Regions from separate parts of the Homo sapiens genome. Here all the other regions are linked to region 1. The links come from fine-mapping of genetic effects on gene expression. Tissue or cell type: whole blood. Region 1 holds a variant in brackets; each other region holds the start of a gene. All regions are shown on one strand. Distances are between the middles of the regions.

Region 1 (7,238 bases):
TTAAGAAAAGTTTACAAAAAAACAGAAAGGAGTTGGAGGGCTCATTAAATAAGCTCAATTTTAGGCACTATCTATTGATTTCTTGCTGTGAAATGTGGAAATCAGCATGGATACACACATGTACAAATATATATATACACATATACATACACACACACTCCCTCTGCCACAACCAATTTTTGTTAACTGCTTTTATTTGGTAAAAATGTACATAGTTTACATTATATGAATTATGAACTGTAATTCCATGACTGCTTAATCCTGGATCTACATTAAACTAGATTCCATGCTCAACAAGAGTCCTTTTTAATCACAACTCCTCTAAATTTGAGTTTTTCATTAATATCATGTTTTTGTTAGCTGGGTTTCAGCAAGCAGTTTTTTTTAATGGCGCTAATCGGTGCCACATCTGAAATTCTTGCAGGCTTCAGAATGTCTGCTATTGCACAAACTTTCTTCTCCCTAAGAACTTTGTAAATATTACTCCATGGTCTTCTTACATGGGTGCCAGAGAATTCTGAGGATACAGCCTTTAACCTCTTCTCTTATGCTTGGTTTTCAGCCACTCCACCAGTTCAAGAATATTCTTTCACCAAGATTTTAATGCCCTTTACCATGAGCGCACGTCTTCTTCCTTTCAGGCTTTCGGGAAGTCAGTGAGTGTAATTCACAATAAAGCCCTGAAATTCTAGTTATTTTTTTTTTTAAATTTTAACACTTTATACCACATTTTGCCAAGGTGACAATCAGGTACTTCTAATTTTGCTCTGGATTATGGCATTCATTTGCTGCATTTATGTATTCAAAATATATTCCCTCTTCTAACCATATTAAAATAATTTTTGATACATCTTTATATTTTCCCAAAAGATTTTCCTTATGAAAGTGATATAAATCTTACAGTCACACACCTTACATTTACAAATATAGTACATGTGAGGTACCATGTTAGAAATTTTTATGTTTTTTTCTGATGCTCACAGCAACCTGAAAACTCGATAGCAGTATCCCTTTCATATTACAGATGAAGAAACTGAGTATGAGACAGGTTAATTAAATGGACCCAAACCAGCCAGCCAACATGGTAAATTGGAATTTTCACCCCCATTTCATTTAAAGTTCACTAGTTTTTCCACACACCACTCTCGCACCTATAGCTGTCTATTAACTTTCCATATCCTTTCCCTTTCTCTCTAAAATTATCTTTAAATGGAATACTTAAAAGGTTATGTCATCAGTAGGTCCAACAAGAAACCGCTTTTGCTCTATTTATAAATCTTGAGGTGCAAATAAGATATTGAAAAGTCCACGGGCTCTAAGAATGGACTGGGAGGATGTTAATGTTTGCTGAGAGATTGGAACTGGTTTCAGACTAAATATTCATGCCTCTGCTCTTTAATTTTGCCATTAAAAAACTCAAATGTTTCTCTATATAAATTCTTAAACACAAAAAACACACTGCTAAAGACTTAACCCATACAGTGTTTTCCATATGCTTTTCAACAAACAAAAATAAATTTATTAAGTAGAATTTTACTTGCAATAAACCCTCTATAGTTTTCTTCTAATTTTAGGGAATATTTGTATTGTGTTTCTTCCAGTTCCTGGTTATAAGCAGATGTAAGCTGCCAAGCTGAGATCTAAGTTTTAAAGCTCAAAAATTATTTTCAAATACACAGCACTATGCTATATACTGGGAAAAGCAAAAAGCAAGTACCTTTCCCTGCTTTCCTGGAGTTTAGTTTTGCTAATGACACAGGGAAGTAAAAATAGCAAAGAAACAGTTTGGAAACAATAGAGCGGCACAGCAAAAGCAGTGCTAAGAGGAAAACTTATAGCACTAACTGTTTACATTAAAAAAGAGAGAAATAAATTGATTATTTAAGCTTCTACCTCAAGACTCAACAAAAAGAGCACAATAAACCCAAAGCAAGAAGGAATAAAATAATAAAGAGCAGAAATTAATAAAATTTAAAACAGGCATTATTTTAAGTGAACTAACACAGGACAGAAAACCTTATTAGTTCTCACTTGTAACTAAACACAGAGGACATATGGACACAAAGAAGGGAATAACAGACACCAGAAACTACCTAAGACTGGAGGGAGGGAAGAGGGTGAGGACTGAAAAACTATCTATTGGTTAAATACACTATGCTTAATACACTTAAATACGCTTAATACACTTAAATACACTTAATACACTTAAATACACTATGCTTAAATACACCAAACCCCCATGACACACAATTCACCTCTGTAACAAACCTGTATATGTACCCCTGAACCTAAAATGTAAAAAAAAGAGCTGGTTCTTTGATAAGATTAATAAAATGGACAGCCTCTAAAGATTGAGACACAAACTACCAATAGCAGGAATAATACAGGGGTTATTTCTATTGACCCTGCAGATACCAAAGGATAATAAGGGAATACTACAAACAACTCTACACGTATAAATTTGACAAGTTAGATGAAATGGACCAATTCCTTGAAAAGCATAAACCATCACAATTCACTCAATATGAAATAGATTATTTGAACAGCCATATAATTATTTATAGAAACTGAACTCACAATTTTAAAACTCCCCTCACCCCCCGCCCCTGACCCCCACAAAAATCTCCAGGTCCAGATGGTTTTACTGGAGAATTCTAACAGATGTTCTAAAAATTATTTTTTAATGTTTTAACATCAATTTGTACAATCTCCTCCAAAAAGTAGGAGAGAACACTTCCCAATTCATTTTATCAAGTTCATATTACCCTGATACCAAAATCCAACAAAGACAGTACAAAAAAAAAACCAAAAAAAACTACAGACTACTACCCTTCTCAGAAATACAGAAACAAAAATACTTAAAAGTATGAATTAGCATGTTAAGTACTAATACTTAATGAAGTATTAGTATTTCACAAAGTATTAGTAAATAGAATTCAGCATTATGTAAAAAGAATTATGACCAAGTAGAGTTTATTCTGAGTATGTAAGGATGGTTCAACATTTAAAAATCAACACGATTCATCCTATTAACCAACTAAAAAGGAAAATTCACACAAATGAAAAGATGCAGAAAAAATACTTGACAAAATCCAATATTCAGGACAAATAACTCTCAGAAAAACAAAAACAGAAGGAATTTCCTTAACTTGATAAAGAACAAGTATCAAAAACTAACAGCTAATGGTACACTTAATGGTAAAAGACTGAATGTTTTCACGTTAAGATCATGAACAAGGAAAGGATGTCCACTCTCATCACTCTTACTCAATATAGTACTGGAAATTCTAGCCAGTATAATAAAGGAGAAAAATAAAAAAGAGAATGAAAAGGCATATAGATTGTAATGGAAAAAATGAAACCATCCCTATTTGCAGATTTGTAGATAATGTGACTGTGAAGGAAATCTCAAGGATTTTGTGAAAAGAAAAATGCTACAAAGAGTAAATTCAGCAAGGTCACAGGATATAAGATACACATGCCAAAATAATAAAAAACAAACAAAAACAAAAACGAAACCCATAAAACTCACAAATGGAGAAATCATACAATGAAAGGCTTGGCAAAAGACATGCAATCTCTTCCCATATAAAACTAAAGAACCTGTGTGTGGCCAGGCACTGTGGTTCACACCTGTAATCCTAGCACTTTCGGAGGCTGAGGTG[G/C]GAGAATCTCTTGAGGTCAGGAGTTCCAAACCAGACTGGCCAACATGGAGAAACCCCATCTCTACTAAAAATATTTTTAAAAATTAGCTGGGCTTGATGGCAGGTGCCTGTGATCCCAGCTACTGGGGAGGTTGAAGCAGGAGAATTGCTTGAACCTGGGAGGCAGAGGTTGCAGTGAGCCAAGATCGCGCCACTGTACTCCAGCCTGGGTGACAGAGCAAGACTCCATCTCCAAAAAAAGAAAAACCTGTCTGTGATAATTATGCAACAAAGCAGAAATGTTATTATCCCAGAAAGAAAAACTCCATAAAATAAAATGATATTAATTTATGTTATGGTTAGGCAAAAATGGCATTATGGTGCCAACTGAAATGGAGAGGGGGATAGGAGAGAATGTGCTTGTAAGAAGTATGTGTTCTAATTTCATCACGTAAGTAACTCAGTTGACTTTTTTTTAAAAAAAGCTTAACTACAAAAATCTTCACACAAGCATAAAACCAAAAAAAAACTCACATACCTGTCATACAGATTGAATTATAATACAAAATTTGGCATATTTACTTTATTCTTTCTTCAAATGATTATAGTATTTTAATGCAAATCTTAGACATAAAGTCATCTCATTTCTACATACTTCTGTATACCTGTCCGAAAATATCAACATTTTCTTAAAAACTATAACGCCATTACTAAATGCCTAACAAAATAGCAATAATTATTTGGAATCATCTAACCCACAGTCTGTAATCAAATTTCCACAACTGTCTTCTGTAATCAAACTGTCTCAATTAGCACAAAAATGTCTTTTCGCAGTTGGTTTGTTCAAATCAGAATTCAAATAGTATTCATGTTCACAGAAAAAATGAAAAAATAACACTTTGTATAATAGCTATTAAACATAAAAACCTCAATGAAACACACATTTCTATTTAAAAGAAAGCTAATTATCAAATCTGACTCAAGATACACAACCTAATAGACAACCATAGAAAAAATAAAATGTTGTCAAAGAGCCAGACTTCAAAAAGGTCCAGACTTTCCTGGACGAAGTCTCTCAATCTTTAAAAAAATAATTTTTGGACTACATAAATCATTCCAGAAAATTAAGGAGCAGAAATTAACCAATTATTCTTTAATATAAAAGTTTGATGACATTATCTGACAAACAGAACCCAAAGAACAGCATAGAAAACTTCAGTCTGATTTCACTCCAATTAAAGAGAATGCTGAGCAATTAGTAGTAGTTATCGTTAAGTTGGGTCTTTTGGCAGTAAGCTCTAAGATGAGGTGCTTGTGTCAAAGTGATTTATTAGAAAGTATTCTATGGAAAACCTTGTAGGGAAACAGGACAGGAAGGGAAGGAAGCTAAGCAAGGGTAAGACACCAAGGAAGGTCCCATAGAGGGTAATTTTAGCTCAGTCCCTCAGGGTAGTTCTGGTGTTAACGTAGGTCACACCTCAGAGTTTACTCATATCATTAGTCATTGGTTAAGGGCTGTCTTCAGGAAGCAAATTTTCCAGACACTTCCACGGCATGTACATTGGCAAAACAGGCTCTGGCATGGTGAGGGTGGCCTTGCAACAAGCCTTAGGAGCTAGATGTTGAGAATCAACAGACACTAGGAGTCTGACAGCAGGAAGGAAACACAGGCCTATGGAGAGAGCACTGGCATCATCTGCTACAGTTTAAGTTTTGGATACAGAAAGTTAAAAACCACTTTGTTTGGATTTGCATTATGGAATTCCTAAGAGGTTGAGCAATATATCACTCCAGTGGGATCATCCTACAGTTAAAAACCACTGGTGATTAGTCCCAACAACTTGTACAGACATTTCAATTCGCTTTTTATTAGCTAGTCTAAATTACCAACACCAGTTATCAATCACCAGACATTTTAAGGAATGGCTCTGATAAGAAAGAAAAAGACAAACAGTCACATTTAAATGAATTTGGTAGAGATTATGCAATGAGATGAAAACTTAAAAACAAACAACATACCACCATTAATATCTTGAGAGAGAAAAGATACCATGCCATTGCATTCATGAAGAACAAGGTATCAGTTTTTAAAAATCAGAAGACAAAAGACTCCTAAAAATTAAAATGTAAGAAAATTGAAAACCTCAAATAGAACAGCTGTAAATCAGATAAAGAAATCTCCCTGAAAGTAAGCAAAGTTAAAAGACAAGAAAGACGAGGTGATGGAAAATAAGAAAAAAAACTGTGAAAACTAAAGATCACTTTAGAGGTCCAGATAAAAGAGAAGAGGAAATCATTAACTCAATATTTCAAAGACATTTTCATTTTCACACTGAAAGGATCCAATGATACCCAGCACAGTAAATAAAAACAGACCCATAAAGACATATCATGAAACCTCAGGACGCGTGGGTCAAAGCCATCCTGCAAACTTTCAGAGAGAGGAACAAAAGGTCACATACAAGAGACCAGAAAGTAAGTGGTTCTGGACTTGCACAACATTGAAAGCTAAAAAGCAGTGGAGAAAATCCTTTGAAATTCTGAGGAAAAATAATTTTCAACCTAGAATTTTATACTCAAACTATGCAACAAGTGTGAGGGAAGAATAAAGATACTTTTGGGCTGGGCGCACCTGTAATCCCAGCACTTTGGGAGGCCGAGGCCAGCAGATCACAAGGTCAAGAGATCAAGACCATCCTGGCCAACATGGTGAAACCCCATCTCTACTAAAAATACAAAAATCAGCTGGGCGTGGTGGCACATGCCTGTAGTCCCAGCTATTTGGGAGGCTGAGGCAGAAGAATCTCTTGAACCCAGGAGGTGGAGCTTGGTTGCAGTGAGCCGAGATCACACCACTGCACTCCAGCCTGGCGACAGAGTGAGACTCCGTCTCAAAAAAAAAAGAATAAAGATACTTTAAAGACATGACAGATTTTGTTTAGATCAATGCTCAGCATATACCATATTTTAAAGCACCAGTAGGACACTGATGTAGAAATGTTGAGCAAGCTGTTGGAGATACAGGTCTGGGGACTGGGAGAAGTTTCAGAATTGGTCACCTGTATATTTGAATTACAAATTAAAAAGAACACTCAACTCTAAAATATAATATAGCAAATAAAAATAGCTAACACTGAGTAATTATTCATTGAAAAGGATATTCTTCTAAGTGCTTTAAATTAATTTACCATAACTTTCCACAACCCTATGCTGGCTAACAGAGTTGTGTAAATTCCTATTAATTTTAATTGCTTGCTATATGGCCTGCTACTACAAAAAACTCAAAAGACAAGATTCTCTTTAGCACATTCCCCTCTTTTTACTCAGCCACTCAACTCTTAATCTAAGAAAATCTTAATAAAAAATAAAAAGCATTCATGAGCAGTGCCTGTACATAATAAGCTTCCAAGGATGTGCTAAATGAAAAAGATTTAATATCCCAAATCAGAATCAATACAAGGTAAAATTATGTAAATTAAGATATACCCACTAAGTAGATTATACAACTGCTAAATTGTTGAAGATTACATTTTATTATGAAAACATATTAGAACATAAGTGAACACAAATATTTTATATACAACAATTTCATAT
Region 2 (7,238 bases), 32 kb before region 1:
CAGAGACGTGGAGTAATCAAAGAGCAAATTCAGAAAATATTCTCTAAGTTTAGGATTTGTAGACTACTGAATTATAAATTTATACTGATTAATACATAGCAAAGGTTACATTAATATATTAAATCATGAATTTATATTATCTTGAGGTGATTGACCCTATGAGGTCACTTATAAATTGATTTTATGAGCACATAACACTTTATCTCTTTCCACCCTCTAAGTCTGTATATTATTAAAATACAGAAGACTAGACTTGATGTGTTTCAAAACTTCAGGCGCAGGTTAAGTTCCACCACTCAGTTCTGCTTCACTTGTTCTCACTCTGAGTCACTCAACCTCTGAACACGTTTTTCATTTGGTCAACTTATTTGAGCATTTGTCCAAGTAGCCTGAGTGGGTCTAAGTATAAGACATGAAATAAAGAGCTTGACATGGCAGAGACTGTCAGACTTTCAGAGAGAAAAAACAGTTTACTTAAGAATCTCAGAAATAGCTGGTCATGTCTAAGTTAGGGTCCCTAAGAAAATACAGGTGATTTCACTTTGTATTTCCCCCATTCCTTTCCCCCTTCCATTTCCGAAATTTGGTATTTTGAAAAGGATGAAGATCGATTTGGAAGTAGCTTACTTTAAAAAGGAACATAGTAACAGGAAATTGTAAAGTAACATTCTGTTAGGTTTCAAGGCTGATTTGTGTTAACAAGCTGACCACAGCCCTAAGACATGCTTGAAACCCTTAGTGCAGGGAGACAAAATAGGAACAGGGCTGAGCCTGATGCGGCCTCATTTGGGTTTGGTTGTTGCTGCCCCACTTGTAAAAACAATACAGACTGCGAAATAGACAGTCGTCCCTCAGTATCCTTGGGGTACTGGTTCCAGGACCCCCTCTGATACCAAAACCCATGGATGTTTAAATCTCTTATATAAAATGGTATAGTATTTGCATATAACCTATGCTTATCCTCTTGCATACTTTAAATCATCTCTATAATACCTAATACGAATGCTATGGAAATAACAGTTATACTGTATTGTTTATATTTTTGTCATATTATTTTTTATTGAATATTTTTGATCCACGATTGGCTGAATTCATGGATGTGGAACCCACAGATATGAAGGGCCTGATTGTACTAACTGATACCAGATCATTAGGCAATTCTCTTACTGGGGCTGCAGATCCAAAATCCAGACCACGTTTCTCTGAGTAAAGGTGTAATTTCCTCTGAAAAGACTAAATGTTTTCACTGCCAGTTTCCCAGGGGAGAGGTTGGTTCAGCAGGAATTTTGGGAGGAGGGTGTCCAGAGTGTTAGGTGAGTGGAAACCTTCCTCATTTCTTTTAGTGCAGATGTCAATTTGGCTCCAATTCTAAAGAAGTGCTGATAACTGAAGGTTTCTAGTGGGGTAGCTGAACTACCTTTGGTGACCTGGAAACAGGTAGCAAAGAGGGCAGAGCAGTAGCCTGGTAAGGGTGGAGAGGATTCCACTGGAGCTTGGCCGCTCTCATAAAGTACTATCTGGACCCTTTCTTTCATTATTCTGGAACGGTCAGGAAAGTCTGGTCTCTACTGTGGGCAACAAAGAGGAAAATAAGTCTTTTCCCCAGGGTCAAACAAGATGACAGAAGTCACCAGCAGAAGATGGTAGTGCCCACTGAAGCAGCAAGTTAACTGGAGTCACTGTCCCTAGGAGGCAGCCCAGGAATGGGCAAGAGGGCAACCCATTTCTGGGTACACATTACACTGTACCCTGGGAACCGCTGAGGATCACGAGGGGCATATTTTAAGGGTGGCTATTTCTGCCAGTAATGCTGGAAAGCATTCATGGCATAATGCCATGATATGTAGCAGAATCCACCACAGTGTCTGTACGAAATGTTTAAGTAGGTAATTCATTCTGTCAGTTATTAAGTGTTATGAATCTGAAATCATTAAAACAATGTACTGCACAAGAAATAGGCAGATAAGCAGACCAGAATACAGTTTATACACAAACCGATAATGAAATATCATGGGGTAATGGTGATTTAAAATAAATGTTGAAAGAAAGGATCGTCAAATAAAGTGTATTACAACAAACGGGTAGCCATTTTCCTACCTCACTCCATATAAGAAAATAAATTCTGGAGGGATCAAAAATATAAACACAAAAAATGAAACTATGAAAGTAAGAGGAAAACATAAGCATATTATAAATAAACCTTGGTGTGAGCAAGACACACAATTCAATAGCCCTAAGAAAAGATTAATTGGTTTGTGTGGGGAAAAAACAAGTACGAAATAATCATAACAGTTCTAATACATATAAATAAACCAATATTCAGAGAGTTTATAAAAATTTTTAAAAACCCTAGTAATTCAATATTAAAAACTGGCGAAGATGAAATGCAAATTACCAATGTATAAAAAAAACTCAAACCTTAAGTACAAATCAACAATTATCAGATATTAATGCAGTGATAAAACTAGTAAGTTCAATAATCAAAAACTTTGGTAAAAGGGGCAGGAAAATATACTCGCAAATGTTGAGTAGTAGTATAAGGTAGTACAGTACAGTTTAAGAAGGCAATTTGGCAGTATCTATGAATATTTAAATGCATACATTCTTTATCTCAGCAATTACTTGCTAGGAACTTATCCTATGGCTGTACCCACACAATCATTTCAAGGATGTTCAGTGCAGCAATAATTATAATAAAAGTATCCAACTCAATTATCAATAGAGGAATGGCTTAAAAATTGTGGCACATCCATACAGAGATCTAGTTAACTATTAAAAAGAATTATCTCTAAGTTATTAAACAGTAAGCAGAAAAGGCAAGGAGCAGAATGATGTGTTTAGTTTGGAAATGAGTACAGTTCTGTTATTTTCTGTTTATGGCTGGACAAAGGGACTGCTGGGTGGGGCTGTAGCAGATTATAGCTTTTCATTTTATATTCATTCTCTTTTACCAAGCACATACATTACCTTTGTATAAAAACTTAAAAATATTTTTAACAGGAAAGACATTATCCTCAAACCATGCAGTAATGCCCAACTTGAATATATTTATTCAAGATCTAAGGAAGGAAATTTCAGGGGTACTGGAGTTATTGAAAAATAAACCTAAAAACATGCCAATGAAAGAAAATGGCTGTGGGTCTCAGAAAAAAATGGTACACTGACTGCACCTGGGAAAAAACTGGAACTCTCGAAGAATTGAAGTTAACTGGGCTTTGGCAAATTTGTGAATATATCGACTCTTTCACATGAAGTTGTACCTGAGCCTTATTCTTTAAATCCAGTTCAAATGCCACAATTTCTTTGAAACTTCTCAGATCCCTAAACACTTAATATACAGTCCTCTTATAGTTCTTTGTAAATACCTCTATCATAGTCCTGAGGAGGCTATTTGTTCACTGGCATGTCAGCCCCCAACCCAAATGTGAGATCCTTCAGGCAAGCCTTAACCACAGGTTTCGCCCTCCTTTCTCTTCTATAGCTGACAAACCATGAGCCTGGTGAAAGTTTGTTGAATGGGTGATTTAATGACTGGAGGAAAAAAAAGAGCTGTTGCTTTTTTTGGATTTTAGGATAGAAAACTTGTAACTTGACATGTAAATTAATTATTAACTAACTCGACACAGTTTTCTCCTTACCAGTGTTAGGCACGACCCTACCTTTGTTTTGTCATCAGAGATCACTTGTTGCTTCAGTAACCAAGAGCACTGAGCTACACCAAGTGACAGTGCTTTGGAATGTCTAATGGTCACTGTAGAGAAAAGGAACCTGAGCTCTCCTCCCTAATAGCAAATACACACAATCTTCTGCCCACACTTGAGGTTTTGTTCTTTTTCTGGACTGTATTCTCCAACGTAAATGCGAGGTTTTTTGCCTGATGGTGTATGATACGTGGAGTTCAAATCAAGATTTTCTCAAGCAGAAAACCTGTTTAGGAGTCCCTCCATATCTATGAGAAAAGCATTTTGTTTAGAGGTCTCCATAAAAATGAAACAGAAGAAAGTAGGGGGCATATGGAGAACTTTTCTTCATAGTGAAAGGATGCTCACCATTTACTTCCTTTTAATTGATATATAATGTACATATTTATGGGGGAGAGAGTAATATTTTGATACATACAATGTATAGTAATCGTATAGTAACCTTTTTAAACTTTTTTGTTGTGGAGATGGAGTCTTGTTGCCCAGGGTGGACTTGAACTCCTGAGCTTCAGCCTTCTGGGTAGCTAGGACAACAGGCATGCAGCACTACACATGGCTTTGTTATTTAAAAAAAAAAATCCTATTATGTCCCAGGCACAATTGGAAACAAGACAGATTTGATCTCTGATAACAGTGCCTGGCAACTATTAGGATCGTTCCTAGAATCTATTTGCAAATGGTGGGAAAAGGCAGGGACCAAATATGTGAGTTCTATCTAGCAGTACAATGGGTCAAAGAAAAACAGAAAGAATGAATAAGATCTAGTATTTGATAGCACAATAGGGTGACTATAGTCAATAATTTAATTGTGTATTTAAAAATAACTAAAAGAGTATAATTGGATTGTTTGTAACACAAAGGATAAATATTTGAGGGGATGGATACTCCATTTTCTATGATGTGATTATTACTTGTTGCATGGCTGTATCAAAGTGTCTCATGAACCCTATAAATACGTACACCTACTATGTACCCACAAAAAATTTTGTTAAAGTACATAGCTCAGGTTGTTCAGGGAAGATAAGAAATTGCATTTAGTACAAAGACCACTAACCTGGGAGTCAGGAAAATTGAGTTCTGTTGCCACTTCTGGCATTATTTGTGTCATTTTTCTAAACTTTAACATCTCTAGATCTGTTTCTGAATCTTTCAAACGAGGCGTTAGAACATCTTTAAGCTCTAGAAATCAGTAGTCCTATATTTTTATGTGGGAAAGGGCTCAGTGTCTTCTATTTCCATGAATAAGAGAATAAGACTTAAGCCAGAACAGATCTAAGAAAGATATGAAAATAATCTGACACAAGGATTTGAGAATAAATAGTAACTTCCGAGTACTCTTCACCCTTGGAGTAGAAGGAGAGAAGGATGCTAAGACGGGTCCACATGAGGCTGCTGGTCCTTTGTATGGGTCAACTATTTACCACTCTTGAAGATGGATACCTCCTTCATCTACCCTCATTATGAACTAGTTCAGCAGTCTTTATACCCTTGATTGAAGAAAGTAATTTCTTATGGCAAGATAAAAGAATCCAAATCAGCTTTGAGATCTTTCCAGCTCATGTGTGTACCTGCTTACCTCTACTGCTGCTTAAGAATGTCTGTGGACATTCTTCACCACTGGTTGTAAAAACCCTAGGGAGCCAGGGCCAACAGCTTTTTTTTCCCACTTTACTTCTCTAAACTGTGACAGTATAAACATGATTTTTTAAAAGTTCAAAAAGGAAAACAGTGAATTATTGAATTTCTTTCCAATCCTAGTACCCTTCCCCAAAGGTACTGCCAACAGTTTTTGTATATTCATACATTTATAAGTTAAATCATATTTTTCCTTATTTGACATCATATCTATGTTTGGTCTTAATTCTGTCATCTATTGTAAATTCTCCCTTTAGCTCTCTTATATGGCCTGTGTTATCTTTAATTTTGTGTTTTCATTTTAATAGTTATCAGGCTTACAGTTTTGGTGATTACCTTCATAACTATTCAGAATATTACATCCCTATTTCTTGATATATTATCAATTTTACAAAATTTCTATTCTGAAAAGTAAAACCAATTAGGGCATGTATATATTACCTCGTCTTTGATATTCTATTTTCTAACTTGTTAATCATCTTTTCTATATCAAGATTTATAACATTTCAATATGCTTCCATAGCCTTATTTAAATAATTCTATAGCTACATAGTTAAATAATTAACCACCACCAGTCCTGTTCTCAATGTTTGTCCATTTATCTCTTTAGATGGGCTTCATCATCTAGATTTTTCAAGAAGTGTCCACCCTCACTCTTTCAATTTACCCTTCCATTTGAAATCACTTGGCTTCTTCCTCCCCCAAGAATCTGGTAGAGTTTGCTTCACTCTGCTTTAGCACTGAATGTTGCTACAGAGAAGCCTAAGTCCAGTCCGTTCTTCCTCTCTCCATCTCCCCCTCCCAAAGAAATCACTCAATTTTGTTGCTGCTAAGATGACATTCCCCTCTCCCTGCCCCCAGGACAATTTGCAGATTTTGGCCACATCAAGAGCAACTGTATTTTTTTGAAATTATAATGTTAAAATTAGCATTTGTTACACGATCTCACTTTAATAAAACCATTTCTATCTATTTAGCTTCCTATCCAATTTATATTTATGCATTAATTGGAATTACTTTGGGGGGTGGTGGGGTTTGGGGTCCTTTAAAAATTTTCATCTTTGAAATGGTCATCTGCAATGAATGTTTAAGTTTTTTTTAAAATAATGGAGCTTATCACTTTTTCAATGGAAAGATGACTTATCTAGTAAAAGCTGGTAGTAAATACACAAGATACAATGATGCGTACTTTTTTGTACGTTTTGAAGAAAAACTAACACAAAAGAAAAATGTTAAATGTTTAAAAAGAGGAAACAATTTCTCAAACACCTCCTCTTGATTCTGACAACTTGGGTGGGTTAATGGGCTTATGTCATAGAAATGGCATTTTCCCCCCTCCATATCAGGACACTTCATAAACTTTAACAAGAAGAATAAGCCAGAAGTTTTCTTAGCAATATGAATTAAGAGTATAAAAGCCATTGAATGATGTGGATGGAAGTTTTTACATGGTTATGGCTGCATATGGAAATGAAATGATTTAAATTGGCCCCTTTCGAGAAGAGTCTCTTGCTTCACACACTCCATTCTTTCTTCTATGTAGCATCTGGTACTTTCAGTTCCCCTTTTGTGTAAAGTGCTGGAGGTTAACAAAATACAGTAGTTCCCCCTTAACCACGGGGGGATACATACCAAGATCCCCAGTAGAAGCCTGAAACAGTGGATAGTATAATCCATCCACCAGGATTGTAGTAAGAATTACATGGGATAATGCAATGTAAAACAATTAGCACACTGCCTGAGAGTATAACTCTACTGCACACAACTACTTTTTTGGGTACTTTGCTTCTAATAGAAGGTGAGTTCCTTGACAGCAACAAATATAATTTGCCACTTTATCCCTATTATCTAGCTCAATACTTTTAGTAGGCACTCAAATGTTGGTTAAATGATTTGGAGCTA
Region 3 (7,238 bases), 41 kb after region 1:
TCACCAGATGTGGCCCCCTGAACCAGGACTTTTCAGCCTTCCTAACTGTAAGGAATAAATTTCTTTTCTTTATAGATTATCCAGTTTCAGATATTCTGCTAGAGGCAACAGAAAACAGATTAAGACATCACTGATATATGTAAATAAATGTAAGTGTCCCATCCTGTTTCCACTATAGCCTCTGATTCAGTCTATAATGCTAAACATTTACTGAACGATGTAAAAGATAAACCGTGCAACTGTTACAGGTTAAACTGTGTCCCCACAAAAGATAGGTTGAAGTCCTAATTCCAGTACCTCTGCACGTGACCTTATTTCAAAATAGGGTCTTTGCAGATGTAATCAAGTTAAGATGAGGTGATTAGGGTGGATCTTAATCCAATACGACTAGTATCCTTGCAAGAAGTGGAGCACACCATCTGAAGACAGAGCCACACAGGGATTATGTTGTGATAACAGAGTCACAGACTGGAGTGACATAGCTGCAAGCCAAAAAATGCTAAGGATTGGCAGTAACACAACAAGCTAAGAGGCATGGAACAGATTCTCCCCTCGAACCTTGAGAGAGCATGGCCATACCTACATCTTGATTTCAGACATCTTGCCTCCAGAACTGAGACAATAAATCTGTTGTTTTAAATCACCCAGTTTGTCGTATTTTGTTACCGCAGCCCTAGAAAATACAATGACCAAGAATGCAAATAACTATGCCAAGCTGTATTTAATTTCAAATTCTGCCTATTATCCAACATCTAGCCGTTTAAATGTGCTTTAATATACAGGTTTCCCATTCCAGAATCTCCCTAATATTGCCTCTCGTTGCCCCCAACACGCCCCTTCAATGTGCAAGGCAGCACATACTACAGGTGCTAGATAATTTATTTAGACTTTCCTTTCAGTTTCCCCCACCTTCTTATGTGCTTCCCTAAATCACAAACACCAGTTTCTTTATATATTTTTTTTCTCCCTCTTCCTATTCTCACATATTACAGATTTTGGCATATATATTCCCCTTGGACATTTGAATTAGCTGCAAAATAATTTAAGTACACATTGGAGTTCCTCTCTAACCAGATTTTAAGATAAAAGGCTAACTTCTCATTTTATGGAACAAGTCTCCTTCCCGCTCCCCACCTTTCTTCTTTTAAAAGAATGACTTAATCCCACTGAATTTGAAGTAAAAAGATTTTTGTCATACCTTTCTTTCAGCCTTGCTATAGTTTGTACATCAGCGTCTTTAATCAAATCTTAAGAAATCTTCTAAAAGAAAAGATGGTTGTATTGGGAAGCTTAAACTTTTAAGCCTATCTGAATTTAATTTCAGCATCAAGCTTTCCATTTTCTACTTAAGGTTTATTTATAGCTGCACTGTCACAAAAATTCCAATCAATGATTTTACCACACAAAGACTCTAAATTACCATGGCTTATAATGTTAAACTGCATAATGCAATTTTAATTTTAGCACAAATCAATACACAAATAGTAGCATGTGCCTAGTGACATACTTTTTCATATTTCTATTAGGTAAACAAGAACTCATTATGTGTACCCTGAAATAAATTTGTGATACAATTTTAAGAATAACTGGATATTGAATTTACTCAACGTAGTCTAGTCTTAAAAAGCATAATTATGAAAAACTTTAAATAGGAAACACAAAATATTTCTAAAATGCTTAATCCTAAGTAGGAAGATACAAAAAAATACACATTCCAGGCAAATTTGAGAGGCATTTAGTAGCTCTCCACTAATACTGAAAAATTATTCTCTTTATGAAGAATTTTAAATGAGTCATACTTTCCTTACTAAGTCATTGTTTCACTTACCATAAGGTGAAGAGTTAACTGTTTGCTAACTTGAAACTTTATATTCACTTAAACTGTACATCTATATATAAAGACTGGTAGAAAGTATAGTGTACTATATACAATATTTAGAACATACAGCATCATGGGCATTAAGCTCAACTGCCATTTACCTAAGAGGGTGAAAAGCTGTCATCTAAATACCTTCTAAAAACTCGGATTCCAACTTCCCAAACTCACACCAGAATGAAGCAACTTGAAATTATGCGCACTTTTTCCTGGCAGAGCTATGTTCTATGCCCAACTTTTAGTAAGTTAACATATTTCTCTCCCTTACACATCGGCCAATTATTCATTGATTCATTATGGTTCTAAATTTATAACTTTTAAATTCATAATGAAATCAATCCATGGTTAGCACAATAGTTTTCTATCTTAAAAAAGCGTTAAAAGGAAATACAGTAGTATGTACAATGGATATAGAGAACTAGGTTAGAAATCTTGAGAATTTTTCCAGGATGTGTGGGTTTTTTGTTGCTGATACTGTTGTTTGCTTTAAATGCGGGGTGGTGGGGGGTGGGGAGACGGTAAGGACCAGGAAAGAATAAATCCACAGCGCTAAATTATGGTCATCTTTTAAGAGTGTACGACTTACCCAAATTCAAAGCAAATGGACAACTTGTCAACACCTACTAATTCCATCACAATTTGTTGGGGAAAAATGGGGTGCAGAAGCAAAAAAAAAAAATTTAATGCCTTTCTTCCTCCTCCATGCCCCGAATGCCCCAACACACACGTATCTGCTTCACTCTGCGGCAGGGAAACTTAAAGAAATAAATCAGCTACAGACAAACCTGATGATCCAAGCTAGACCCAAGCAAGCTCCAGGCACCTCTGGAAGGAGCCCGCTCGCTGGGCGCTCAGGCGGCGCGGCAGCCGAGTGGCTCCCCGGCGAAGGTGCCCAACACCTGGGCGCCCAGTCCGGCGGGACCCACAGGTCTGCGGCGGGGCGGGGAGGGCCCGGGAGGAGGGACTGGGAGGGCCCGGCGGGGCAGGACCGCTAAGTGGTCCGGTCCGGGCGCACTGCGCGCCCCGCCGCGCCGCCAGGCAGCGCGCGAGCAGAAGAGGGGCGCGAGCGGGCACAAGGGAAGGACCCACGACGAAGAGGAGGGTACATGTCCACAAAATTGAGGCCGGGTACGCAGCCGAACGCTGTGGCAGATCGCTAAGGCTCCGGGAGCGGGAAGTCCTCGCGCCTTCCTCAGGAGCCCGGACGACCCCAGCCCGGCTTTGACCCCGAGACACCTGTTCCGCCGCGCCCGGGGTTTGGTTCCATCCTCCACGCTTCCCCACCAACCCGGAGAGGGGGGAGGGCGAGGGGAGACGAGACCTTGGACCCGTAGCCTGAGGGCGCCTCCGCCGGCCATACCTGACATCAGCTGCGGCTCCCTCTCGCCCCTCCTGGGGGGCGGAGAGGGGGACGACTTGGGACTGGTGACCTTTGCTTCTCTGGGCAGCCGCAGAAGTGGCTCGTGGCCGCTAGCCGAGGCCGCCCGCTGCCGCCCAGATTATTCCCCGGCAGCGGCAGCACAGCGGCGGCGGCCAAGGCGGGCCCAGCGCGCGCTCCCGCCCGCTCGCTCCGCCCCTCCCCGCAGCGCGTCCAGGCCGTGGCCCGCCTATGGCGCAGCCGCCACCCGAAGTCTCCTGGCGCTGACGTCTCCGCCGCCGCACCAGCCCCAGGGAAGGGCGGAGCGGGAGGGGCGGTGGGCGGGGATACGGCGACGTGAGGAAGCGGGGATTGGCTGCCGGGTGCACGCTCCGCCCTAATGCGAAGGGGTCTGGGAAGTCGGATCTTGCACGAGCAGTAGATTTTGTTGTATCCCCCTTGCGGCTTGTGTCTGCTACTCTCCGCATTTCTGATCCTGCTGTAAGGTTATGCACTAGCTTCAAGACCTTGAGCGGGACGAAAGCAGGGTAACAATAGGGAGCGAGAAAGGGGATGCTTGAAGGACCTTTGTCTGAGGTACAGGCTCTAACCCTGCAGGACTCTTGTGGCCTGTAGCCTGCTCTTAACCCGTTCATTTGTTTTTCTGTTCTCTCCCCGTGCTCTCTTTACTCAGTATCTCTCTGGGCTTAATAAAAGGAAGTAATAAGATGAAGTATGCATACGGGTGCTGGGTCATCATGTGAGAACCAGGAAGAGCTGAGAACCGAGATAATGATACCAGAAAGCTTTCTATAGGCACATTTCGTCTTTGGTTCTGTCAGCACTTCGGTTCTGTGGGGCAATGGCCGGAAGAGCTTCTTAGGGGCGTAACAAAACCTATCTCCCCTTTCGCTGGGCTCTGAATAAGGAAGTTGTCTTTGGAATAGGGGGAGGAGGCTGCCACCTGTTGAGGCAACCCCACAATAGTCATGAGGTGAGGGTAAGGTTTAGTCTTTACTGGCGTTAACCATTATCTACAAGACCACGTTCCAGAATAGGAAAGCTACCCTGCTTCCTTTAAATGCCCTATCCAAGCGGTTCTTTAGTACTCTACAGCATGGTTGTTAAAGAGTATGGGCTCTGAAATCAGACTGCCCGGGCTGGCATCTTGGTCCCTCCACCTATTGGCAAGTTACTTAGAATGCCTGAGACAAATAATAATATACATTAGTTATTGTTATTTTTCCTTTAATTTGCTTAGGTTCAGCTGTAGTGTAGTTTCTCAGGACATTGCATCAATATATCCAAAAGAATTGTGAAACATAAAGCACATGTAGTGATTCTAATACAGATGTCTCATTTTTCAGATGACAAAACTAAGGCCAGAAAGATAAACTGATAGGTCCATGTTAGAAGAGAAGTGCAGCTATCCTGATGTCCAGGTTATTGCTCTTTCCTTGGCTCATGGGTCCAGACTTCTCTGCCTTACATGATTACGTCCATTCTCTACTCCTCCCCAACTTGTATACAGTTGTTGCTCAGCCTCCTCCCCCTCCACCTTTCCGCAATATCCTTCCACCTTTCCGCAATATCCTTCCACCTTTCCGCAACATCCTTCCACCTTTCCGCAATGTCTTGCCATCCATTGTGAAACATGGAAGGAGAACTCTTTCAGGGGTCAGTGTTCCAAATAGAAACCAAAACTCACAACTCCTTATCTCGTTTTAATTTTATTAAAAGTTATAATTAATAAAGAATAACACTTTTTTCCATTGAGCAAAGATTAGAACCCTTTCCTAAAATAAGGTCAGCCACAGCCTTATCCTGGAAAATTACTTGCTAGAAACAATACTGGACCAAATCAGCCCTGCCCCCACCCTGCCTTTCTTTGAAAATAGCTTTTTTTTTTTTTTGAAGAGATATGGTCTTTCTATGTTGCCCAGGCTGGAATGCAGTGGCTATTCACAGGTGTGATCTTGGCACACAACAGCCTCGAATAACTGGGCTGAAGGCTGAAGCAATCTTCCCGCCTTAGCCTCCCCAGTAGTTGGGATTACAGGCACAGGCTGTGGCACCCAGCTAATAACTATTGTTTTATAAAAACAATACATGCTTATGCAAACAAATTTAAAAAATTTAAACAAAAATGCAAAGAAGTTAAAATCTGTCCAAATACCATAATATAGAGATAACCATTTCTTAAATTTTGTGTTACATTCTTCTAGGCATCTCTCTAAGAATAAAAGCACATATAGACATATAAATACAATATTTCATAAATTGGATCGTATTATCTGCACAGTGAACAACAGTCATGAATAACATCATTTTTAAAAGTTGCATACTGTCTGTTAAATGGATATACCATCATTTATCCAACCAGTATTCTATTGATTGACATTTATGTTTCCAAGTTTTTACTACCATAAAAAAAGTCTCTGATGAACATTCTTATCCATAGGCTTTTGCACAATTGTGCAATTATCTCCTTGAACACATTCCTAGAAGTGACATTAATGTCAGCCAATTCTTCGACATTTTCAATTAGAGAATAAAAATTGTGGTTACTTTGAAAAATATACTTTATATGTGGGACTCAAAACTGACCAGATTCTCCCATTTGAAACATACTTGAAACACACATAAACCTCAGTATTGTTGTTTCTCTTGTGTCTAGTGTTTAATAATGCATGTCAAAACTCGTTGGAGTAGGTCGGTAGACATTACTAGTTGTCTAAACCAAAATCCTTTCTTCTTTACTAGTAGAACTCTGATTTCTTCAGGGTGACAATGTGGCCAGTTAAAAATATTCATGCCCCTAGACTTTCATAAGTCATGGCTGGCCATGTGACCATCAATTAAATAAAAGTGAATTTCTGTAGAGGAGACTCAAGGAAAGCTTTATGGAAGAAATATCGCTTTAGCCATTTGATATGCACCCATCCCTTTTTTTTTTTTTTTTTTGAACCTGAAACAGGGACATGATACTGGAGGTAGAACAGCCATATTTCACCCATAATAACAAAAGCCACACAGACACTATTAATAGTGTAGGACACCAGAGGTGCCTAGGTCCATGGTTGCTTTGGAGGGCCAACTTACCAGGTCTGGACTATCCACTTCTGGATTTGTTGTTAGGTGAGGAAGATTATATCCCTTCTATATAAGATTTTGTTATTGTCTGTTGTAAGTATCAAATGCAATTCTTAGTTGACATAATAAGATAGGCCAAGTCATCATTTATTTAGCACTATATATAGAATTTTTTAATAGACAGAATGAGGTGAAAATGGTGACAGAAAATGCAAACAAGCTAGCAACAACATTAAAACATTGTCTTCTTTAATAGACTTAGTTTCCCTTTAAATACCTACATTTTACAAATATATTAACACCAGTTTATAATAATTAAGTTAAATTTCGTGTATTAAATTTTATTAACTCATATGGTAGTATTAAAATATGTTCACAAATTATTTGATACTTCTTCCTTCAAAGGGTCAAACTTCATTCCCCTCACCTTGAGTTTGGACTGTATTAAATGACTTGTTCTCATGAATAGAATGTAGTGGAAATGATGTAATGTGACTTCTGAGGGGAGACTATAAAACATGCCAGACTTTTTATTCTTTCTCTAGGATTACTTGTTGGGGCCAGGTAGCTGTTATGTCAGAGTCATAAGGTCACTCAGGCAACTTATAAGGAGGCTCACATGGTGAGTAATTAAGGCTTCTAGCCAACAACCGGTGAGGTATTGAGGCCTTCTGACAAGAGCCATGTGAGTGAGCTTGGAAGCAGATCCTCCAACCCTTCAGGCCTTCAAATGATTGCATGCATCATGGTCAACATCTTGACTGTAACCTAGAAAGAGACCCTGAGACAGAACCATTCAGCTAAGGTGCTCCTGAATTCCTAGGCCACAGAAACAGTGAGATACTAAATGTTTAAATGATTGTTGTTTTAAGCCACTAAGTTTTGGGATAGTTTGTTATACAACAATAGGTA

What was found. PIP is the estimated chance that this variant, and not a neighbour inherited with it, causes the effect.
Region 2: it holds the start of LINC03016, and the variant in region 1 is fine-mapped to the expression of LINC03016 in whole blood (TOPMed, PIP 0.91).
Region 3: it holds the start of C1GALT1, and the variant in region 1 is fine-mapped to the expression of C1GALT1 in whole blood (INTERVAL, PIP 0.97).

Annotation. Positions count from the first base shown.
Region 1 is chr7:7,219,836-7,227,073 of GRCh38, reverse strand. All of the region lies in intron 1 of C1GALT1 (core 1 synthase, glycoprotein-N-acetylgalactosamine 3-beta-galactosyltransferase 1), which reads right to left. Among named protein-coding and RNA genes, the nearest start is that of LINC03016, 32 kb to the left of the region's middle. The variant G/C (reference allele first, on the strand shown) is at 3,666.
Region 2 is chr7:7,251,600-7,258,837 of GRCh38, reverse strand. It overlaps LINC03016 (long intergenic non-protein coding RNA 3016), which reads right to left and starts at 3,684. Exons shown (of 4, transcript NR_108073.1): 1 at 3,660-3,684.
Region 3 is chr7:7,178,819-7,186,056 of GRCh38, reverse strand. C1GALT1 (core 1 synthase, glycoprotein-N-acetylgalactosamine 3-beta-galactosyltransferase 1) reads right to left here and starts at 3,513. Exons shown (of 4, transcript NM_020156.5): 1 at 3,237-3,513. RefSeq lists silencers at 2,724-2,943, 3,164-3,773.